Regions from separate parts of the Homo sapiens genome. Here region 1 is linked to region 2. Evidence: fine-mapped expression QTL. Tissue or cell type: tibial artery. Region 2 holds a variant in brackets; the other region holds the start of a gene. All regions are shown on one strand. Distances are between the middles of the regions.

Evidence for each region. PIP is the estimated chance that this variant, and not a neighbour inherited with it, causes the effect.
Region 1: it holds the start of MTX3, and the variant in region 2 is fine-mapped to the expression of MTX3 in tibial artery (GTEx, PIP above 0.99).

The regions. Positions count from the first base shown.
Region 1 is chr5:79,987,845-79,996,030 of GRCh38, reverse strand. It overlaps MTX3 (metaxin 3), which reads left to right and starts at 4,769. Exons shown (of 9, transcript NM_001363818.2): 1 at 4,769-4,873; 2 at 5,368-5,437; 3 at 5,795-5,871; 4 at 6,787-6,879; 5 at 7,387-7,569; 6 at 7,716-7,792. The coding sequence starts at 4,793. It also overlaps a transcript of THBS4 not described here. RefSeq lists an enhancer at 5,102-5,271.
Region 2 is chr5:79,963,595-79,971,780 of GRCh38, reverse strand. It overlaps LINC01455 (long intergenic non-protein coding RNA 1455), which reads right to left. Exons shown (of 3, transcript NR_131226.1): 3 at 4,155-4,194. All of the region lies in intron 2 of LOC105379048 (a long non-coding RNA gene), which reads right to left. Among named protein-coding and RNA genes, the nearest start is that of MTX3, 24 kb to the left of the region's middle. The variant C/T (reference allele first, on the strand shown) is at 3,944.

The DNA of each region.
Region 1 (8,186 bases), 24 kb before region 2:
TGAGTAGCTGGGATTACAGGTGTGCGCCACCACATCCAGCTAATTTTTTTTTTTTTTTAGTAGAGATTGTGTTTTACCATGTTGGCCAGGCTGGTCTGGAACTCCTGACCTCAAGTGATCCTCAAGTGGTCTGCCTGCCTTGGCCTCCCAAAATTCTGGGATTACAGGTGTGAGCCACTGTGCCCAGCTGTCTTTTTAAAGCCCCAATCTCTTTCTCTCAGGCACTTTTATTTTTTTTCTAATGTAATAGGGAAATTTGAAGGTAACTGATTTATCTACTCAGCATCCCATAGTTCCCCTTGAAACTTCCTCCAGTGTCAGAAAGAGAGCATGTCTCTCATTTTCAATGCCTGCCAGCCCCGCTGCTCAAGCTCCGGATCTCAGCCTCAACTCTTAGGGCAATTTCTAGGATCCCATCCTTCTTCTCTCCAGCATCTTCAGACTTTTACTCATAATAGCCAATTTTGTCCTCATATGTGTGTAGATTCACCATGTCGTCTCTTTCAAAAACTTTGAGTCTTTCAGTCCTGTCCCATTTCTCTTCTTCCTTTATCAGTCATATTCCTCATGCTCTTAGACCTGTCCTTATCGTTTATACCCTTTTCTCCAGTAATCCCTTGCCACTGGATTTCTAACAACCTCCTCTATCAAAAATGCTCAGCGGAAGGGTGCCAAGTGACCTTCCTCCAATAATATTCAGCAGCATTTTCCACCACACTTTTACTTTATTTAATATAGTTTATGGGTTTATAAAATGCTTCTTCTTATAATGTCCATGTAACAATAGCTGTCTACCTCCCATCCTTGACTATGTAAATCCACTAATATTGTATTTGGACTTTTACTTGTCTTTACTTTCTCAAAACTATAAATTCCCATGCCTTCCAATTCTGGTTCTCAAGTTAGTCAACCAATACTCTCCCTGAGCAGTCTCCAGCTTATAACCAAACCCAGCATTCGTTTACTCATCTTCAGATTCCTTGCCATAGTCAGTCCTGTTTCTATGCCTTCACTTATATAGCACAGCCCATATGCAATGCCTTACTCTGTGCCAATCTAAATGCAACGTACCCACCCTTCGAGATCAGCTATCATCTTCTTTCATTAGGCCTTTGCCAAGCATTGCAGTACATTCAAGCCTTTGTCTAAAACCATACTAGACTTGTCTTCTTGACAAAATGGTACTTCCTAATAGTCTCTAGTTAGTTCAAATATGTGGGCCTTGTTTCATCAACTGTGCCTCTAAAAGCTTGAACATAAGTTTTTGCACAATCACGGCTCACTGCAATCTTCTCCTCCTGGGCTCAAGCCATCCTCCCGCCTCAGCCTCCCAAGTAGCTGAGACTATAGGCACACACCATCATGCCCAGCTATAATTTTTGTGTTTCTGTTGAGACAAGGTTTCATCATGTTGTCCAAGCTTGTCTTGAACTCCTGGGTTCAAGTGATCCTCCCTCCCAAAGTGCTAGGATTACAGGCGAACATAAATTTTTATTCCCTGACAGGCTTGCAGTGTGCTAGGCATACAGAAGCTGCTTAATGAATTCGTTTAATGGTGTAATACTAAACAAATATTATTTACATAAATAATAACAATAATATCATGGCATTGATATCTCCACTTTGGGTGAAACTGGGCTTTTTAATGGACTACACAGGAGGCTACATGAGGCAGTATGACACAGTGGTTAAGAGTATAAACTCTGAAGCCAAAACTGCCTGGGTTCAAATCTTGGTTCTACCACCTACTGGCTATATGGGTACTGATATTTTCTTCTATTTTCAAGGAGGGACACAAAGATGTTAGTTAACCTTAGGAAGGTACCTGTGTCATGAAATCATTATGGAGATAAAGCAAGTTATGTTAGATACTTGAAACAACTTCTGGCATGTAGAAATTGCTCCATAAATGTCAGAAATTATTAAATGTTCATTACACATAAAATGATAGCATCTCAGAGATAAAAGAACTTTTGCTTTATAAATGAATGAGCAGAGGTATCAATGTAAAATGATTGGCCCAAGCGCATATGGCTAATCAGAGGCCAAGTCAAGAACTCAGCTCTCCTTTTTTCTATTCAGTGTTTGTTCTTTCCCCTCCTTAAGGATTTTATATCTGAACACAAATTACAGAATCTTCAAGTTCAAAGGGATATTTAAGACTTTACAATTTAATTTTCCCATAAGGGACCATATACTGTACCATCATTTGTCACAAACCTTTCATCTTTCCCAACAGCACCATTTCCCAGATTCTTAATCACCCAGACAAAAAGAGCCTAACAAACCTTGCACTGTGGCTCCCAAGTTAAGAAACACATGAAGGATGGGTATGGATGCCAAGGTCAGGTTGCCTGAGTTCAGATGACTATCACCAGATGAAACCATTCTTAATGATCATCTTTTGAAAAATAAGATTTCTTTTTTGGGGAAAACACTGTCTGGGATACTCATTATAAAGCTGTGATTCAGGCCATCCCACACAAACATGGATGTTTTGCAGACAGTATTCTTCCCGGTAGGAATCTGAAGTTATGATTTAGATGAACTCTGAACAATACTCTAAAACAGCCAGGAAAAGGCACAGGAGCCAACTAACCATACCAGGCATAATTTCTGAAGGCTTCAATTTTCTGTGTGGTTCTCTGGAACAGTATTCAGCCTGTTTGTGCAATCAGCTATGTTAGAGTTTTTTAAATTCAATCTAACAGATACAGACTCTCAAGAGGAACTGCAGCAATAAAAGATTGCTATTATCTATGCACTAATAAACCTGTGTGTAAGGATTCTTTCATCAGATGCAATGACATGCTATTCTGTCTCAATTCAACACTAAGGGAAGAGATTTAATTTCTCTTTAATGCAAATGAAATCACTGTATGTAGTAGCAGCAGTACGGAAGAAGGCCAAACTGAGTAACTGTGTTATGTGTCCACTAAGAATGTTCATTCACTCCTCTCAGTCCTGCTACAAACAAGGCTCAGGAAATCCACATTCTTTCTGTATGATTGTTTTAAATGCCTGAATGTAGTATATGGACCCTCAGCTTTATGGCTTAGGATTTTCTTTCCCCCTGCCTTGCCTTTGTCAGTCTATGGTTTGACATTTCTAACCCTCAAAACAGGGAGGTTCCATTACAATCTGAAAGTTGAATTACTTTACTTTCTTTATACTGAAGACTCAACAGATAGTCTCCACTGATCACACAGAGGATGCACTGTCCCTCCTTTGTGTTTCTGTAGTATTTTGCTTATATTTCTAACCCTACTCGTGATTATCTGACTTGTTACACCTTGGTGTGTGTATATCTCCTTTGTGCACTGTAAACTCCCGAGGACAGAATTCATGTTTTATATATTTCTGTATTGTTCCAGAACCTTATGATGTCTAAGACATAGGAGCTGCTCAATAAATGTTTCGACAGTTTTAATGGTACATATGTTATGCATTTTCCAATTATACAGTTATTATTAATGAATTCTCATTTCTGACATATCTCTTTTTCATTTCTTAGAACTCTTGGTTTTGAAACATGTAAAAAAGACTTTAGCAGGCTGGCACTGTAATTTGAATGATTATGTAAACAGTAAGGGAGTGCCTAGCAAATATTTGTTGAATAGTAATTTTACGAAAAGTTGCAGAGGTTTCTTTTGAGTTTTAGTTAAGAAGATCCGACCATCTCAGTGGAATAGAGGAAAGAACTCAGAGGCATGACTGCGAGGGTGTCCCAGAAAGACTACTGTGCCTTCTAGAAAAAAGACCCAGCACCCAAGTTCTAACTCTGAGACCCAGTCATATGTTTGGATCATAGCATTTCCAAGACCAAAATTTCCTCTTTAATAGTTTTTCTGAGAAACTGTCAGGTTTAACGTCAAGAAACATTTAGTCTGTGCTCATTAGGCCCACAGACATGACGAGCTACATGATTTGAGGGGCCCAGTCCAAAATAAAAATGCAGAGCCCCTTGTTCAAAACTTAAGAATTTCAAGACAGTGACGGAAGAGCATCAGCCAAATGAGGAGCCTTTTTAAGCACAGAGCCTTGTGTGGCTGCACAGGTCCCAAACCTATGAAGCTAGCCCTCTTCTGTGAAAGGCAAAAGGTCTGTAGCTAGGGAGAGAAGCTACAATTCAAATATGCACAAGGGGCTACAAGAACCCAGAGCTCCTAACTTTGTAAAAACATCACAGGGAAGGTGAGTTAAGCTCATTTTTGAGGGAGCAGCTGCATAGGGAAGAAAGATATTCCAGATTGAAGGACCAGCACTGAAGGTGGGCACAATTTACCTGACGTTCAGAAATACTGTAACTTTTAAGCAGGGTTGTGCCAGTGAACATGAGGGTGAGAACAGGTTGAGGCTGGAAAGGCAGGCAGAGGCCACATACATGGGAGAAGGGGTTGAACAATTACTGAGTGCCTCCTGTGTGCCAAGTTCTTTCTCTCCGACATTGTAAATACCACAATCTTGTAAATACTGGGTCATCCCTGTTTTACAAACAGGTTAATTTAGGCATCACACAGATTTAATGTTCAAAGGGTTTGGAACACTCTAGGGATCTAATAAATATTAATATTTGAAGAATTACTGGTGGGTCTGACTTAAGGCACACAACTCTTACCCTTTAGGCCAAGCTGCTCCTAAGAGTTCTTCTTAATCCCTCCAGTCGTTGTTTCTCTCATCTCTCAAGAGCCCCCAAATTACCCTTCCCTCCCTTAGCCACGCCCCCGCGTTTCACGTGCCGGAAATTAGGAGGAAAAGTACTTCCGGGATAGTAAAGGTCGGCCCGCGCAAGATGGCGGCCCCCTTGGAACTCAGTTGCTGGGGAGGCGGCTGGGGACTCCCATCGGTTCACAGCGAGTCCCTGGTGGTGATGGTGAGGCCGCCTCGCGGGCCAGGGCGCAGGAGGAAGGGGCGGGGCTGGAGGCGCCAGGCTGACTTGCCCCAGTTTCCCGCTGCGCTGCGGGGTCCAGGAGGGCCGAGCCGCTGCACGCTGCATTGCCCTGGGCTCCCTCCCACCGACGAGTCCCAACCTGGCCGATACCCCCGCCGAAGGCCGGCGGCGACATCAAGGCTTCTCCGCTTGGCTCCGAGTTTTGTCCGCCTCACAAAGCTGTCTGGGCGGTGGAGTGAAACCCCGAAGCAAGGGGCGCGCCCTCCCTACTCTGCATCCCCAGGACCTTTTGGGGAGCAAAGTCCTCGAAAGCCGGGTGGCTGGCGCCCGCGTCCCTACTTGAGATCACGGGGAGGGATGCGGCCTCAGTATCAGTCGCCTTCTGCCTTTGGGGGATGGGGCTGTGAAGTAAAGCTGCTCTGCAGCTTTGCATTACGCACTTGGTCTAAAATGTTTGATTGCAAACTCTGTTTCAGGCTTATGCCAAATTTTCTGGTGCACCCTTGAAAGTCAATGTGATAGATAACACCTGGAGAGGTTCAAGAGGTATAGTGTAAACCTTTACACTCCCCTTTCTGCACTCTTTTTTTTCTTCTTCCATTTAAAGCTGTGAGGTATATAGCTATAATATTGAGGATTTAGTTTCTTACCGTGACCTTGGCTCTGTGTTGTTTATGGTTTGATCATTCTGAGTAATACCTCAAAGTGCAAGCGAAATCACTGGAAATTATGAGAAACGAAAATGTTCTTTAGAACCGCTCTTTGTGAAACAGCAAAAAAACCAAGACAAGCTTACTCATTTTTTCCCCTCTAAATGTGCAACTGCTATAGTTTTTAGGATATTGGAATCTCTCAGAGGAAATCACACTGTGTCCTTGTATGTAAACTGTTTTTTGATTATAGGCGATGTACCAATTTTGACAACTGAAGACGACATGGTTTCTCAGCCAGCAAAAATACTAAACTTTTTAAGAAAACAGGTGGGTGGTTCACTTTGAAGAAGTAGATTGGTAGATTGTTGATCCCTGCATGTTGGGCTTTATTTTATTTATTTATTTTTTTTTGCCAACTCATTAGACAATTGGAGATACCTGGGACAAGATGTAAAAATAGATTTGAGAATCACTGCTCTAAAGCATGAGTTCTGTGATTTGAAAGTCATATGAAGAGGTAGTCAGTTTATATTTTAATAAACTTTGCTTGAATTTTATTGAAATTTGTATGTAAGTAGATTTAATTAGCCATTTTCACTATTAAACTTATTGATAGGATTGTGTATTTTGTCACATAGTTGGTACACATTTTGTGCTGGGCATGACACCTGAGCTCTCACCAACTAGCAACTATATTATTTTTAAAAAGCTCTTAATAGCAGTTTTATGGAATAATGTATCTAAATGTTTTAACAGTAGAGAATTATGTATCCAAAATGTTTAAACATGTAAAGATTTATATGAATGGATAAGTTATTTGTTTTGCCAATACTGTACTTAAAAAAATTGTGTCAATAACATTTTGAACTTTTATAAATTGGAAGGTTTTTTCTTTTGTCTTGGGGAGAAACACAGCCAATTGGAACTGTTTCCTTCTTGTTAAAAATAATAGTTGCTTTGTTTGTACTACATGCCATGCACTGAACTAGGTCATTAACAAGCATGAAAATAATAGTAGTTAATATTGTAACATTTATTGACCATATTGTGTATGTGATGCTGTGCTAAGAACTTTATGTGCATTAAGCAATAGGTTTCACTGGATTTGTATTTCTCTTTCTCCCATTTTAATACCACGTTTGCTATTTGTAAGGAAAAATATGAATCCTGATTTGATTAGTTTTACTGTCTTTGGGCTGCTCTTTGACTTCTGAGTTTCTTTGGTTTATTTTTTTTTAATAGAAATATAATGCTGATTATGAACTCTCAGCAAAACAAGGGGCAGATACATTGGCTTATATTGCTCTCCTCGAAGAGAAGCTTCTCCCTGCAGTGGTGAGTGTTCTTAAATATTACAGTATTTTAGTAGCCTAGTTGCAAATGTACATAGTCTGTTTAGAAAAAAACCAATGAGAAAAGTCTTAAGAGAAAATTTTACTTATATGTTAATCTTAATTCCTTCATATTACTGTGAAACTGGATTCTGTTAGGCATTCAACTAGTATGTGAAACAACAAAGTAAAATAAAATGTCATGTTGGAAATTCTTTGTGGGAGATGGATCTTTTTGCTCCATGTATAGAATTGGGTGTAATTCATTCATTCAACAAATGTTTATTGAACACCTGCTATGTGTCAGGCCTTGTTCTGGGTGTTTGGAAGATAGCAGTCAACAAAACTCACACATTTAAAATAATCTTGTTTTATCCTGAGTCATTCTAACTGGAAAATTTGTATGAAGACACTTCATATAAAGATATTTATGAAAAACTCTCATGTTGATTGAGTGATCTTTCATTTAATAAAAGAACATCCTTGTAGTGTTTTTTCTCTTCTTTTGCAGCTTCACACATTCTGGGTTGAGAGTGACAATTACTTTACTGTGACAAAGCCATGGTTTGCTTCACAAATTCCTTTTCCTTTGAGTTTGATCCTGCCTGGAAGAATGTCTAAGGGAGCACTGAATAGGATTCTCCTGACCAGAGGACAGCCTCCCCTCTACCACCTCCGAGAAGTGGAAGCACAGGTATAGTATGGATTATTCTTCAAGCAAGGGCCCTAGAGAGAAAGGACAAGATAAAATGCAGACTTGAGTTTACCTAGAGATGCCTTCCTCAAAAGTAGTTTTAGAGTATCTTTTCTACTTTTGAGATATAATTTCATCCTTATTAGATATACAGAGATGCCAAGGAGTGCCTAAATCTTCTATCAAACAGATTGGGAACATCTCAGTTTTTCTTTGGAGATACGTGAGTATTCCCTTAAAAATCATTTTGGTATTTTGTGCACATATATTCAGTGAGCAGCTATTTAAAGCAAGTCCTCTTATCTCCCCAAAAGATGAGTTTTTTACTTAAAAAAAACAAGATTTAGGCCGGTGTGGTGGCTCATACCTGTAATCACAGCACTTTGGGAGGCCGAGTTGGGCAGATCACCCGAGGCCAGAAGTTCAAGACCAACCTGCCCAACATGGCGAAACCCCATCTCTACTAAAAATACAAAAAATTAGCTGCGTGTGGTGGTGGGCACCTGTAATCCCAGCTACTTGGGAGGCTGAGGCAGGAGAATCGCTTGAACCTGGGAGGTGGAGGTTGCAGTGAGCTGAGATCACGCCACTGCACTCCAGCCTGGGTGACAAGAGTG
Region 2 (8,186 bases):
ATGTTGGCCAAGCTGGTCTGGAACTCCTGGCCTCAAATGACCCACCCTCCTCGGCCTCCCAAAGTTCTGGGATTACAGGCATGAGCCACCGCGCCCAGCCTGTGAATAACTTAATTTCAAAAAATGATGAATCCCGATTTTCACATATTAGATATGCCTAGGCTGGGAGTACATGTGCAATAACAATATAATATAAAAATGATAATAAGTTAAAGTAACCCAGAGAAATGGTGCCTCAAATGGAGAGGAGAGGATTGCTGTCAGGTCTTGTTTCATTCAACATGTCCTATGATCGTGAGGGAGAAGGAGTCAGTGGTTTGTTAATGAGATTTGCAGATGGCTTTAAATTGAGAGGTATTGTAAACAGCGGGAATGACTGAGAAATGATACAAGAGGATCTGGAAAGGTTAGGAACATGGACAGGAAATCAAATGATTCAGCCTGGAGTAATGCAAGCCAATCTGACATCTGGGGCCAAATACGAAGCAATACAGATATGCCATGAAAGAAGCAAATATGGAAAATAGTCATCTCAAAGGAGGTTGGGAGGGTGGGTACTAGAGGAAAACGAGAGACATGGGAAGAAGGATGTCAAATGCCCACTATGTGCCTGGTATTTATCATGTTGATTTCTTTTTGACCAAGGATAATTCAGTGCTGGGAAAGAAATTAGTTTTTTGAGGATTAATTATGCACAAGAGCTTGGGTACTTAGTGAAATAAAAACTCAACCTGCCTCTAGTTGATCCTAATGAGTGTTCTCAGTGTTGATCCTAATGAGTGTTCTCAGTGTAGAGTGAGAGTGTAGAGTGTTCTCAGTGTAGAAAGCATTGTGGAAGTGGCCCAGGGTCTCCAGAAGAGCTCCAGGGGAGATAGCGCTTGCCACATATCTGCCTGGGCATTTCTCATTCCATGGGTATTTCTTAGAATTGTTGGAGAAGCCTCCACCCGGCTATCCTAGGTGCCAGCAGCACGATGGGGGGCTCACAAAACCTTTGGTGAATTAGCCCAGTTGTCCACCTTAGGCAAAAATAAGGTGTGTGCCCCATGATCTGTTCCTTCCATTTGTGTCCCTCTTTTTCGCTCCTCTGGGACATTCATGTTAGCCTCTAGTAACATAGAGCTCCCAATCCAGCCCTTTGCTTGGGTTTCCCACTATACCGTATCCTTCTCTCTTGCTATAAAGTTCTGGCAATCGTTTGTATTTCCTCTAGATGTCAATGAGCTAAATCTGGTTTAACAGCAGCATTGGCTTAATTTACAATCTGCAATATTTCTTAAAATGGGGTCACTAGTTCTCATTTTTTTTAGTTTTAAGGTCTTGAGAAATTGGATCACAGTTCAGATTTCATGGGAATAAGGAGAAAGAGGACCAAATTACTCTAGGGAGGATAAACCCTGAACAGACACTATTGACTGTATCCATTCCCTGTCCTGAGGAGAGGACCAGAGCACTGGGATGAAAAATGTGTTGAAGGAGTGAGCTAGAAAGGAAATGGATCAAAGACATCTCATTTGTAGTTCGTTCAAACTTGTAAGATATGTTAATGGCTCAGATTGGAAACCTGAAGCTGAATGTATCACCTGTCCAATAATATTTGCCTTATACTAGGGCCCCTTGTGATTGAAGCCTAAAACATTAATTCAATAAGCATCTACTGAGTGCCTCCTATGTTCCAGGCACTGTTCTTGGTGTTCAGGATACATCAGTGAACAAAACAAAGACCTCTGCCTTTGTGATTCTTACACTCCAGCAGAGATGACAGTTGATAGTGAACCTAATAAATAAGCAGATTGCATCACATAATAGGAAGTGATATGTGCTATGGAAAAAGAAAAAAGTAAAGCAGGGCAAGGAGGCTGGGACCACTGGGGCTGGGGCAAGTGACAGTATGAAATATGGCAGGATAAGTGGCATTGGGAAGATGGCATTTGAACAAAGCCATGAAAGAAGGGTGGGGCTGGCCTCTAGTATCCGACAGCATTCAAGGCAGAGGGCACACATAGAGCTTGTCTGGCATGTCTCAGAAACAGCAAGGAGGCCAGTGGTCAGGAGCAGAGTGAGCAGGGGAGACCACGAGATGAGGTTGAAACTCAGGGGAGGGAGCAGACCAGGTAGGAGCTTGAAGGCATTTTTAAGGCTTTGGCTTTTACCCTGTGTCATTGCAGTTTTTGAGTAAAGAAGTGATGCCACTGATTACTTTTTAAGAAGGATTACTTGAGCTATGGTTCTGGTGCTAGACAAGGGTGTATAAGCAGGAAGAGAAGCTGGGAGTATATTGTAGTGACTTTGAGCCAAGAGTTGGTGGATCAGGATGGTAGCAGTGGAAAGGTAGGAAGAGAATGGATTCTGGGTGTACCTTGCAGACACTATCAACAAGATTAGATGTGGATTGTGAGAGAAAGAGAGAAAGATGACTTCAAGATTTTTGGCATGAGCACTGGCTTAATCAAGTTGCTATCAACTGAGATAAGGAAGGCTATGAGTAGAACAGTTTTTGAAGGGAGATGAGGAGTTCCATATTTGACACATTGAGTTTGAGATGTCTATTGAACATCCAAGTGGAGATGCTGAGTAAGGCTGGAGACCAGGAGGTACTAACTGAAGAGTTGTTAGGGTAAAGGTGTTATTTAATACCATGAGACGGGATGAGACGATCAAGGGTTTAAGTTATAGAGAAGAGGACTAGGAACTGAGCCCTGAGGTATTCTGAACACTAAGAGACCATGGAGAACACCAGCAAGGAAGGCTAAGCCCAATGAGGTAGGAAAAAAATGGAAATAATGTGTTATTCTTGATGCCAAATGAAGAATGTGTGTCAAGGAAGAGGTGGTGATTTGCTGCACTGAATGCAATTGATGGATCATGTTAAATGAGGACTGATGCCTGACCATTGGATTTAGCAAAATGGAGGTCATTGGTGACCTTGACAAGCAGTTTTGATGGAATGGTGGGGGCATAAGTCTGATAGGAATAGGTTCAAGAGAGACTAGGAAGAAAGAAATTGGGAAGAGAGAGAAGAAAAAAATGATGAATATGATAATTATAAACAGCATAAGAAGTCTGGGGAAGATACCTAGAGGTAAAAATGCCTTCCCCTGGGTCCTCCAGCTCACATCAAGGAGGCAGCCACTTATTTATTTATGTATAGCTGGAAAGCAAATTAATGTGCAGCAGCAGTGTTAAGCTAGGTCACTGGGAAATCTTCCCCATTAACGGAAATCCACATGGGGTTTAACAGGGTTTGTTGAGGGACTTCTAATTTATTACAAAAATATTGCTGTTTGAAACATGGGCTTTCTGTCACAATGATGAGCTAAATTATTTTAATAAATAGGGTCTAGCATATTAATACTTCTATACTTAGTTAAGCCAGGTGATGTGGAGACCAAATCAATCACTGGGGTATTTTCTTCTTTGTGGAGGATTTTAGCTTCTGTGGTTTAGGTAATAGATTTTTTTTTCTACCCAGGCCTGGGACCTAGAGTGCATATGAAGTAAGTCGCATCTTTATTTTCCACTTGAGCTAATTAATGACTGCATGCATTCATCAGGAGACAGGATGAGAACATATTTGAAAATTAAAGGGTTATCCCTACAGAAGACATTGAGGGTGCTGCATGGAGCATAAGGATGGATTAGGAAAAATGTAATATTTTAAGGGCACAGAATAGTCTGAACAAAAGCAGAGGCCATGGCGTCATCCTCTCTCTTACCTTCTCTAACTAGTCAATCACCTCATCCTGTCTGTTTCTTGCTGTGGTCATTACTTAAATTGGAACCGTTGGCCTCCCCCACAGTCCTGGTTTGTCTTTTCTTTGCCTTTGTGTTGCCTTTTCTTTCCTGGGTTACTGTTACAGATGCACCATTGGCCTCTCAGCTTCTGGATTTGCTCCTTTTCAATGCATTTTCTACCTTGTTCAACAAAGATCTTTCTCAAATA[C/T]GAAATAATCGTGCTTCACTGTTGCTTAACACTTTGAATGGCTCCTTACTGTTATCAAGTTTAAACTCCTATGACAGCTTATAAGACATTTCATCACCTGGTTCTAGTTTATGCCCCACCTTCTGTCTTCGCCATTGAAGATCCAGCCATGAAACTACTCATATCTCCAAATTCTCCAGACTTTCTTTTAAATCTTTGGATCAGAGATTCCAATGAGGGATAGGAGAAGCCATAAAATCAATGTAACAGGGCTAAACAGAAAATTAGAGTTTTAAGCTCCATTAAAATAGAAATACAAGGATGTCCTTTGTTTGAATATTCCTTATATTCAAATTATACCAGATGTTTCTATTTCCACTTGTCTAATGCATGTGCATAACAGCACTGCACATAAACCAGTAGTTGGCCCCTCATTCTCCACTTGGCTTTCGGAACTCTCATGGTCAGTCTTTGGCCCTGTATTCACACTTTGCTCACTCTACACACTCTTCCTTGCTTGCCTTTCCAATCCCTGGGCTTCAAATGTTGCCTGTATTTGGAAGTCTTACAGATTGACATCTCCAGCCCAGGGATCTCTTCTGAGATCAGACTCCTGCCCAAAGAGAGATGTCCAAGAGGTCTGAGCAATCTCAAGCCTGTATCTAAGGCTAAACTGTGATCTTCAGTCCATCAAAGTCTCTTTTTCTGCTAGTCTTTCCCATCTCAATAAATGTCACCTGTATCGCTCCATTGCTCAAGCCAGAAGCATGGAAACTTACCTCTTTTTCAGTTTGTAAGTAAACCGACATGCAGGCAATGTTTGAAATGTTTTATGCATGTTAACTTGTTTAATCCTCATAACAAATCTTCAAGGTAGCTACTATTATTATCACCCACTTTTTAGATGAGGAAACCAAGGCACAGTGAGGTTAAGTAATTTGCCCAAGGTCACATAACTTACTAATGGAACTGGGATTTAAACTCAGACAATCTAGCTTCAGAGTTCATGTGCTTAACCTCTACCCCAACTGTTATTCTTAGCACCTTTAATTCACCCTACATAGAAACAATCAAAGTGCAATCAGTTCTGGCTCCCAGAATCTCCTGAATTCATCAACAGTCATAGGCGTCATAGTCTTTTGCTGCAAGTATCATAATAACTCCACAGGGATCTCCAGTTCCGTCCTTGTCCTCCCGCAACTCTCCAATCCCAGGCATTCTTCCCAGAGAAGCCAGATCTTAGCTTTGATGTAATTTTTTCCCCCGATTGGGAATCCTTCCTTGGCTCTCATAACTGAATCACATCCCCCCAGTTATTTTCCGCAGAACATCCTATTGTCTTCTTTCATATTAAGTTTTCTAATTTAAAATGCTGCATCTGTGTTTTACATTTTTTAAAGCAAGCACCATGACAGCAGGGATTTGATTTTATTTTCTGCTATCTACCGAGTCCCTAGCACAGAGCTTCGCACATAGTAGGTACTTAGTAATATTTGTGAACAGTTGGATGAATGAGTCCCTAATAATAAGTAAAAAGTGACTGTATAATTTTTATTTTATGTATTAAAATGAAGGTACAGTGATACCTTTTTATAATGAACTAATGAAAGGAGGCTCATGAATTAATGAAAAATATATAACATATGACTTTTAAAAACTACAATGCAGTTTTATTGTTTCAATGAAGAACATTGTATAATTTGGTTATGCATGCCACCCATTGCTTCTAACCCCACACTCCTTTCTAAGAGATTCCATCCATACTCTCACACCCCTAGCTCAGCTCATTGGACCAGGGATGGAAACTGACCCAAGCTGGGCAAATTAGATTCTCCCTGTTCAGAATTTAGAATCAGGAAACTGAGAAACAGATCTTTAAAGTAACTGCATTCATCTATCTGTCAAATGTTTTTCAAGAATCTAGAATGAGCTGATTATTGGAGATATGATGAGGAAGATACCTTGAAGGTTTTTACAATCATCTGAGAAAACTGATGAATAAAGCTGCTGCTGAAATTCAGAGTGTTGAGTGCTGTGATATAGGTAATATAGGATGTAAGTACTATAGAAGCATATAGGAGAGGTCCCTTATTCAATCTTGGGAAGGATGAGAAGCTTCCCAGGGGAGGTGATATCTTAGATGGAAGAAAGCTTTATAGATCCAGGGGAGAGTGGAGGTGAGGGGGATGGCATTCTAATCAGATGGAACAGAAAATGCAAACAGTGCATTCAGTCTGGTGTGCAAGAGTTATGCTGAGGGTGGAATGTGGTCTCCATCATGAAGGCCCTTGTCAGCCTAAGCGAAGTGTGGGCTTTATCTTGAGGGCAATGAGAGTCCTGAACAATTTGTTGTTGTTGTTGTTGTTGAGACAGAGTCTCACTCTGTCGCCTAGGTTGGAGTGCAATGGCGCGATCTCGGCTCACTGCAACCTCCACCTCCTGGGTTCAAGCAATTCTCCTGCTTAGCCTCCCAAGTGGCTGGGATTACAGGCACCCACCAGCATGCCCGGCTAATTTTTTTTTTTTTTTTTTTTGTATATTTAGTAGAGACGGGGTTTCACCATGTTGGCCAGGCTGGTCTCGAACTCCTGACCTCAGGTGATCCACCCGTCTCAGCTTTCCAAAGTGCTGAGATTACAGGCATGAGCCATCATGCCCGGCCCTGAACAAGTTTTTTTAGCAGAGGAGTGACACGTTCAGATTTGCATTCTAGAAAAATTTCTGTGGTCTTAGCAGGAGAAAGGTTTTAGAAGCAGATGGATCAGTTAAAAGATTGCTATAGAAATTTGGACAAGAAAGGATGATGGCAGGAATAAGTTGACAACAGTGGGAAGAGACAGGGTGGATGTTTAAAGTGATATTTAGGATGATGATGGGAAGGGAGAGAGGAATTAAGCATAAATTCCAGGTTTAAGGCTTAGACTAGCAATAGATAGTGGAGTCACCCACTAAGACAGGATACACATGAGGGAGCTCAAGGAAGAGATTGAGGCTGGAGACATAAACATGAGCATTATCTGCATATAGTTAATTCAAACCTTTGGGTGAGTTTGTGGAGTGAGAAAAGAAGAGGTTTATGGATGGAACCCTAAGTAACTCCACCTTTGAAGTAGCTGGGTGAGGAAGAAAAACCCACAAAAGAGCTTGAGGAGATGCGTCCAGGGAGCCCATTGGAAATACAAGGAAGAGTGAAGTCACAGAAACCAATGGATGAAAGCTTTTCTAGAAAGTTCTAAACAGTGTCAGTGCTCTCACAAAAGGACCTAAACAAGCACAACTCCAAATGTAATTAACTGCTTGTGCATATCTAACAAACATGAATATTTCTCTTAAGTAAGCATTATTCTCAGTAATCTTATTCACAGCCTCGATTTGCTTGTCTCAAGAATGCTTTGAAAATTCTCTAAGAGTGAAGTCTGAATTCGTGAAGGTTTTCCAAATTTGGTTTTCAAATGTTATTACGTGTCGGTTCGTGAAGTGCATTTGAATGTCAGAGTTGAGAATGTGGAAAAAAGTAGACATAAGGAAACTTATTTTAAAAATGTTTTTCAACTTTAAGGAAAGCATCTAACAACCCACTACGTTTAGCATTTCATGTGTGTTTATGACCTGTCAAAAACTGCCAGAAATTTACTTGTGAGCAAGAAGTAAAAGATGTTGCCTGTTTGTTATCTTTCAGAGCGTCCAAATTCTGAAAGCCACTTTGCAACCCAAAAAGAACTTTCCTTCATCAGTGGACATATGTCAAAGAAGAGAAACATTAGTAATAGGATCCAGGCCATGTAATGTTCATTAAACAATTAGATGCTGGTGCCAGTGTGTAATCGCTTTTTTCCATTTTATTTTCAACAGTTTGAGTGTTCCTAAGAGGCTTGCATGGGATTGAATCTGGTACTTTCATCAGAATTTTAGTGTATTTTCAGTATTGGTAACATCTCCTCTCTCCTACTTACACTTTGCAACAGACTCTCCTGGGTCTGATTTGTGCTCCTTCTTCTGAATGTTTAGTCAATTTAATATACACAGTGGAAATATTCTGAAAAAAAAAAAAAAATGCTAGGTTTCCAGCAGAGTCATTTCAAAGATGAGGTGTTGTTTAAAAACAAAACCATACCATCTATCACAATTACAAGGCAGGAAATACAATGCTCTACAATGTTTAATCAGAGCTTTTCTTAAGGACTCTTGTTTTCTCAGCCTTACAAGCACCATAAACTTCTCTGAAGATGATTTTGTGGCATCCCTCTGAAGCTTAAAGTCCTGG